Linked DNA regions of Homo sapiens. The protein of the gene in region 1 interacts with the protein of each later gene in a pairwise test. Each region holds a gene or a part of one and is shown in the gene's direction. Other genes may lie near its edges.

Region 1 (3,913 bases):
GGTGCAGGACCCATTAGCAGTGGCTAAATCAGTCTGCTTGGGTGGCCATGGGTGGGATGGAATGGAGGGATGGTGAAGGCAAGGGCCTCTGCTGAGCCCCTTTAACCTGGCACTTCCCCTGGCAGAGAGCCTCAGGAGAGGGGCACCATCTCAAGTCGAAGAGACCCAACCCCTGTGCCTACACACCACCTTCGCTGAAAGGTACTATACCCCCACCGACCTTCCTGGCTGTCCGCCTGATCCCTGGAACTGGGCAGACGCTAGGGGAGCTTTTGTCAGTGGGGAGGGATTGTTTCGCCACACATAGCCCGCTGTCAGCGTGGCGCAACAACCCAACGTAAAGACCAATTTTTTCTCAGTCTGGCCTTGCAAAACACAGGAGTCCCGAGGCTGCAATGGGCAGCTATGGGCCTTAACATCGGGTTGTGGGCTTGAAAGAAAAGAGATGGCTGGCCTAAGACAACCAGCAGGCATCCGCGTGGAAGGGACTCCACCTGCAGCTCCTCTTCACCAGCCTGTGGTGGACCACCTCCCACCCCTGCTCATCCAGGGCGCCTTCTCCTGTGGGCTTCACCCCTGGCCTCCCCTCCCATTTGCATCCCATTTGCACAGATCTGCACACTGGTCTCCTCTTTCCTGCTTCCCTTTCTCCATGGAAAAGCAAGCCATTCCTTTTGCACACTTACTCAACACCTAGTATATGCCAGGCCAAGTTGGTGGGCATTGGGCAGAATAAGATGAGTCAGATTTGGTCCCTGCCCCCTTGGGGCTCTTTGCCTCAAAGGGTCAGGGAGGGGCCAAGTAAGGTGGCTCACACCTGAAATCCCAGCACTTTGGGAGGCCAAGGCGGGAGGACTGCTTGAGCCTAGGAGTTCGAGACCAGCTTGGGCAATACAGTGAGACCCCCATCTCTATGAAAAATTTACAAAGTGAGCTAAGCGGGCCGGGCGCAGTGACTCACGCCTGTAATCCCAGCACTTTGGGAGGCCGAGGCGGGCAGATCACCTGAGGTCAGGAGTTTGAGACCAGCCTGACCAACATGGAGAAATCCTGTCTCTATTAAAAATACAAAATTAGCCAGGCGTGGTAGCGCATGCCTGTCATCTCAGCTACTCAGGAGGCTGAGGCAGGAGAATCACTTGAACCCGGGAGGCAGAGGTTGTGGTGAGCTGAGATCGCACCATTGCACTCCAGTCTGGGCAAAAAGAGCAAAACTCTGTCTCAAGAAAAAAAAAAAAGTGAGCTAAGCATAGAGGTGCACACCTATAGTCCCAGATACTTGGGAGGCTAAGGCACAAGGATTGCTTGAGCCCAGAAGTTTGAGGCTGCAGTGAGCTATGATCGCACCACTGTGCTCCAGTCTGGGCTACAGAGTGAGAGCCTGTCTCGGGAAAAAATAAAAAAAGAAAAGGGTCAAGGAAGGTACACAAAGATGTTTAAGCTTGGATTTGAAGGATCATAGGAATTTAACAGGCAGGCAAGGGCATCCCAGGTCCAAGAAGAGGGAAGAAGGTGTGCAAAGAGAAAGAGATGCGAGTCAGAGGGGGACTTCTGGGCCAACCTGGAGGAGGCTTCGTTTCTAGTCAGGGAGCTGGGGAGATATACCTGAAGGACATAGGAGGGCCTCTTCCTGACTAAGCCCTGTTGCCTACCAACCCCCCACCTCAACTCCTGCCTGGGGCTCTTCCTGCCCGGCCAGCCCCCTCCGCTCCTGCGGAGGTTGGGAGGGAGAGCTACCGGAAGAGTATGCTGGGAAGTGGTTCGGGGGAGGGTTTAATAAGTTCCCAGCACCAGCCAAGGTCAACAGGTATACCTGTCAGCCCACTTGCCAGGGTTGGGAACAGAGAGGAGAGGCTGGGAAGGGAGGAGAGAAGGGAAGGGGTTATTTTGCTTTCCCCAGGACAGGAAAATGAAGGGTCAGAGCTGCAGCAAGTGGGCAGTGTGGCTCAGCACCTGGAAGGACCTCCCCACCTAGAGGGGTGTGTGGAAGGGCCCCAAAGCAGGCATGAGGGACAGAGTGTCATCTTCTCAGGAGAGAATTTAAGAAATCCCTCTCCCTCCCACCTTGGGCTGGGTAGGGAGAGGCTGGGTGGATGTGAGGGGAAGACCTGGCTCTTGACTGCAAGCATGGGCGAACAGGCCAGGATGAAGATGTTAGGGCCAGGGTGCTACCATGCACCGTGCAGTGGTCAAAATTGTGCACCCCCTCAACTGCCCCTTTAGGCCACATCTTAGGAGAGTCCAGGTGAGTAGAGGCAGGGAAGAGGAAAGGGATCAGGAGAGGGGTGGCCAGTCTGGGGCAAGGCTGGGGACCTTCCAACTGAAGAAGGAAGACTTGTGGTGGGGGGAGTTTGGGGCCCCACAGAGTGGGGCAGAGAAGGAGACAGCCTGGAAGGAGTGATGGGGAGACCCCAGAGAGCCCAGGAGGCATGAGGGAGGTGGGGGAAGCGAGGGAGGCTCACGGGGCACCAGCGCAAGCACCGCACACACCTTCTGTTGTCACTGTGGCTCACGAAGTGAACTCTCCTCCCCCGCTGGGGGAGAAGGAAGCTGCCTGGGCTGCCACCTGCTCTCCTGCCTTACCTCCCCCCACAGCCCTCATGGATCCTTCTCTACCAGGAGGGCACTGTTTTGTAGGCTTCAGTCCTTTTGTGGGCAAGGGAAGGTGCCCGGCAGGGTTGGGGCTTGTCAGGGAAGAATCGAGGGCCCTAGAGAGAGGGGCACAGCACTAAGTCTTAGCTTGAGGGGTTGTGCTCCAAGGCTGGAGCTCTCACACTTGGCTCAAGATGAAGCTCTGCCGCGTCCCCAAGGTCAGGGTAGGGTGATTTATTGTGCTTTTATTGCCTGGATAGCTTGCCCAGAGCCAGCAGGAGGTACTGGGCTGGGAGCTGGGGGCTGGGTGGGGCAGCGGGCACATACAAAGCACCCTCTGTGCCTGTCCCCGAGTTGGCAGGAGCATAGCACCCTGCTCACTGTGCCGGAGGTTTCCAGCCTGGCCCTACCCCTCTGGGCCTTCTGAGGGGAGGGGCCACTGGCAGACCAAGAAGGAACTGCAGCAACTCCCCATTCCCCACCCCCAGCCCCTCCTCAGCATCTTGTCTGTGGCCTGTGAACTTTGTGTCGCATATGTTCTAAGATCCTGCCAGCTCCTGCAGCCTCTCCTCAGTGGCCCCTCAACCTCTGCCATCCCCCAGAACCCCTGGCCTTGGCCCCTTTCTCTAACCCCTTGCTCCTTTCCATCTTTTGGAAACTTGTCTCCAGCTGCCCACACTGTTCCCTTCCCAGCCCTATCTGAGCAGGTCTTTGGAGGCTGGGGGGGTTGCTTTCTAGGTCACCGCAGAGGGAGCTGGGAACCTGGGGATGTGGGTCAAGATTGTGGGGGCCGCATCTGAGCATGCCGCATCCCCCGGCACAGACTGCACTGGCTGCAGACTATTATGTCCTCAGCCTCGGAATTGTTCTGTCCCTTGGAGCCCGGGGCAGGAGTATGTGGATTGGCATCTATGACTGGGCAGTGCCAGGGAGTGGGGACTATGCATCGCATGGGAGGTAGGATCAGGGTAAGCAGTGAGCCCTCAGCAGGCTGGGCACCCCCAAGAAATGGAAAGTGGCAAATCCCCAGGCCCTGGTTCCTACGCCCTGTGCCTTCTGCCTGGGCTTGAAGCTGGGAGACACTGTCTCCCGTACTGGGTACTTGGAAAATCAAGCTCTCCAGCCAGGGAATGTTAAGCTGCTGCTGTGCCCGCCTGGTCTTGCCCAGCCTAGTGCCCTATGGTGTGGGGGAGCTGCCTGGGGGCTAGCATCTTAGGACAGCTTAAGAGCCAAACATGATCAAATCTACCCCTGGCTGCCTCTGCCCTGGTCTGACACCCATCAGGCTGACCTGTCAACTTTGGCCTTTGAACTTGGGCCC
Region 2 (3,913 bases), on another chromosome or scaffold:
AGTCCTATCCCCAGCCTACCGACGGTGAGCCAAAGTCCAGAGTGTCACAGCAAATAAAAAGTAGCCAAGCTGGGATTTAGACCTAGGACTGACGTTAAATCTGACACACTCTCTCGCTTTGTGTCTGAGGTTTTGAAAGGGGTTCTTCGTATGCTCAGGTTTAGGGAGGTCAAAGAGTCTCTCTGTCTGAGAGGCTTTCTTTTTTTTTTTTTTTTTTTTTTTTTGAGACGGAGTCTCGCTCTGTCGCCCAGGCTGGAGTGCAGTGGCACAATCTCTGCTCACTGCAAACTCCGCCTCCAGGGTTCAGGCCATTCTCCTGCCTCAGCCCCCTGAGTAGCTGGGACTACAGGCACCTGCCACCACGCCCGGCTAATTTTTTGTATTTTTAGTAGAGACGGGGTTTCACTGTGTTAGCCAGGATGGTCTCCATCTCCTGACCTCGAGATCCACCCGCCTCGGCCTCCCAAAGTGCTGGGATTACAGGCGTGAGCCACCGCGCCCGACCAGTCTGTGAGGCTTTCAACACAGCTCTCTGTGTTTTGGAGGGCCTGGAAGCTGGTTATAAAATTATGTCATTTTTTTCCTTTATTCACTGAGAAAATAATTACTTTCCACTAAGGGACTGACAATAGTTTATTAAACAGTCCCCTACGGACAGACATCTGGACTATTTCTAATCCACATTTTGCTATTACAAACAATGTTGTAATGAATAACCTGAAACATGAGTTTTTTTCATATGCATTTCTTGAAGGGGGTTTGCTGAGTCAAATGCATCTGCAGTCTTAGCGGTTATTGCAACTTCTCTTTCATTGGGGTTGAATCATGTTGCGTTCCCCCACGGCATCACCAAAAGAGGGTGTCATCCAACCGCTGAAGTTTTACCAATCTGATAAATGAGAAAGAATATCTCAATTTAGCTTTAATTTGCATTTTTCTTATTTTTAGTAAGATCAAACATCTCTTCGTATGTTTAAGGGGCATCTGCAGTTCTTTTTTTGTTGAACTGTCTCTTCACTGCCTTTCTGTTTTTCATGTATTTTTTTAAAATTAAATTTTATTTTTTATTAAAGATATGCAAATAGTAAACAAAGCGTTAAATAGTATTTAAAGGCTTATAATGAAAAAACAAAAATTCCTATTTCCTCCTCCACCCTGTCTCATGCGCCAAAGGCTACCACTTTCAACTTCTATTTGTTTCTTCTGGCACTAGCTCTATATTTCTGCAAAATACACTTATACTGCTCTTTCTTGATTTTTCAGTGTTAGACATCATTCACTGATTTCAAATAAGGATTTAGTATCCTTACCTAACCTCTTACCATAAGCTTTCCTTCCCTGTAATCTTTCAACATAATGTTATCACAACAAGAGTTTACATTATTATGTTCACGAAAACCTTGTTCTCTGTTGAGCCAAATTACTCAATGATCACGTTTCTTTTCTTGTAAACCTTTTGTCTTTCCTGAAGTTATTAATTCACTCATTTTTTCATTTGCTTTGTTTTGGGGTGTCTTTTGCTCACAGGCTCACAAAAATCTTTCATATGGTCCAATGCATCAAACAATCTACCAGTTCCATTTCCTCAGAATCCTCCTGCCTTGCATCATGTTACACATGTTCCCTGGATTTGCACGCTGGCTGGGATTCACCTGCTTCTCCATCATTCCCCGGGACTGTCTGCTATGTTGAATGGAGCCTTCTCCCTTCAACCCCTATCTTTCTCTTCCCTGGTTTACCATCTTACCCTGATAAGCACATTCTCCAATAACTTCCTAAGAAAGAGTGCATGGGAAGTAATTTTTTTTTTTTTTTTTTTCTGAGACAGAGTCTTGCTCTGTCGCCCAGGCTGGAGTGCAGTGGCAGTATCTCCGCTCATTGCAAGCTCCGCCTCCTGGGTTCATGCCATTCTCCTGCCTCAGCCTCCCTAGTGGCTGGGACTACAGGCGCCCGCCACCACGCCCAGCTAATTTTTTTTTATTTTTAGTACAGACAGGATTTCACCATGTTAGCCAGGATAGTTTCAATCTCCTGACCTCGTGATCCACCCACCTTGGCCTCCCAAAGTGCTGGGATTACAGGCGTGAGCCACTGCGCCCAGCCCATAGGAAGTAAATTTTTAAGGCCTCGCATATATTTTTGTTTTGTTTTGAGACAGGGTCTTGGTCTGTTGCCCAGGCTGGAGTGCAGCAGCTTGATCATGGCTCACTGCAGCCTCCCTGGGCTCAAGCAATTCTTCCACCTCAGCCCCCCAAGTAGCTGGGACCACAGGATGTACCACCATGCCCGGCTAATTTTTGTATTTTTTTAGTAGAGATAGGGTTTCACCATGTTGGCCAGGCTGGTCTGGAACTCCTGACCTCAGGTGATCCACCCACCTCCGCCTCCCAAATTGCTGGGATTACAGCTGTGAGCCACCCACCACGCCTGGCCTTTCTTTGATTTTAAATAACATTTTGATATTTCACAATGATGTGCCTTGGAGGGGTGTGTGTGTGCGTGCGTGTGTGTGTGTGTATGTGTGTTTTACTCCAACCATTATGCTATGCATTTGATGAACCCTTTTAATCTGGAGAGTCACATCCTTTAATCCTGAACATTTCCTCATATTACTGCCTGGTAATTACATGGTTACTGTTTTCCTTGTTTACTATTTCTGGATCACTTATTCAGTAGATGTGGACTTCTAGAACAGTCTCTAGCTTTCTCATCTTCTCTCTCCTGTTGTCCATCCTCTTATCTTTCTGTTTTACTTTCTGGAAGATTTTTCTCAATTTTATCTTCCAACCTGTTGAGAATCTCAGTTTTTAACTTCCAAGACTTTTTTCTTGTTTTATGTATGAAGCTTCCTTTTTATAACATCCTGTTCTTGTTTTGTATAGGTCATATTTTCACTTAATCTCTTTGAGGTTTATATTTTTTAAAAAACCACTCTTCTGTTTTTGTTTGTTTTTTACTGTTTGTTTTCACTGTATTTTTCTCTTTGTTTTTGTCTCTTTTATTCTATTTTATGTATGTATTTATTTATTTCCTAGAGACAAGGTCTCCCTATGTTGCCCAGATAGTTTCAAACTCCTGGGCTCAAGGGATCCTCCTGACCCGGCCTCCCAAAGTGCTAGGATTACAAGCATGAGCCACCACACCTGGCCTCTGTCTTTTATTTTAGAGGCTATACTTAAATATCTGGTAGTCTTTGGATATCTGTTCCTATTTAAGAGTCAAGCACTAACATGGTGAAACCCCATCTCTACTAAAAATACAAAAAATTAGCTGGGCGTGGTGGCACATGCCTGTAGTCCCAGCTACTCGGGAGGCTGAAGCAGGAGAATTGCTTGAATCTGGGAGGCGGAGGTTGCAGTGAGCCAAGATCATGCCACTGCACTCCAGCCGGGGCAACAGAGCAAGACTCAGGTGTCCCGACCTGACGAGTGCCATTCAAGTTGGATTTAGCCATGAAATAAGTTACAAAAAACTTTACATTTATCAGCACTTTGGGAATTTTGAAACTACAGATAAGGGATTATAGATATATAATGCTGAAATATTTACTATCATATTGGTTCTGATCCACAATATTGGAAAATATTAAAAGTGGAAAATATAGGGCCTGACCCTGGTGTTACAATCATTGGCTTCACTTGAGTTCTCAAGTGTACCCACTGTGGCAGCAGCAATCCTCAACACATTTGCTGTTAGCCAGATTTTTAATACAGACCTACATGGCCTTAACTCATTCTTGTTTTTCTTGGCACTTATTCTCTTTTTTAAAATTTGTTTAAATTTTACTTTAAGTTCTGGGATACATGTGCAGAATGCGCGGGTTTGTTACATAGGTATACACGTGCCATGGTGGTTTGCTGCACCTATCAACCCATCATCTAGGTTTTAGGCCCTGAATGCATTAAGTATTTTT

The links.
Region 2: the proteins of PPP1R1B (region 1) and KLHL6 interact in binary tests that used the Homo sapiens proteins (3 or more experiments, as listed by UniProt).

What each region holds. Positions count from the first base shown.
Region 1 is NC_000017.11:39,629,847-39,633,759, forward strand, and holds part of PPP1R1B (protein phosphatase 1 regulatory subunit 1B), read left to right. Parts: intron 1-125; coding exon 126-201; intron 202-3,913. UniProt on the Homo sapiens protein: Inhibitor of protein-phosphatase 1.
Region 2 is NC_000003.12:183,549,029-183,552,941, reverse strand, and holds part of KLHL6 (kelch-like protein 6), read left to right. Parts: intron 1-615; exon of another isoform or gene 616-889; intron 890-3,913. UniProt on the Homo sapiens protein: Involved in B-lymphocyte antigen receptor signaling and germinal center formation.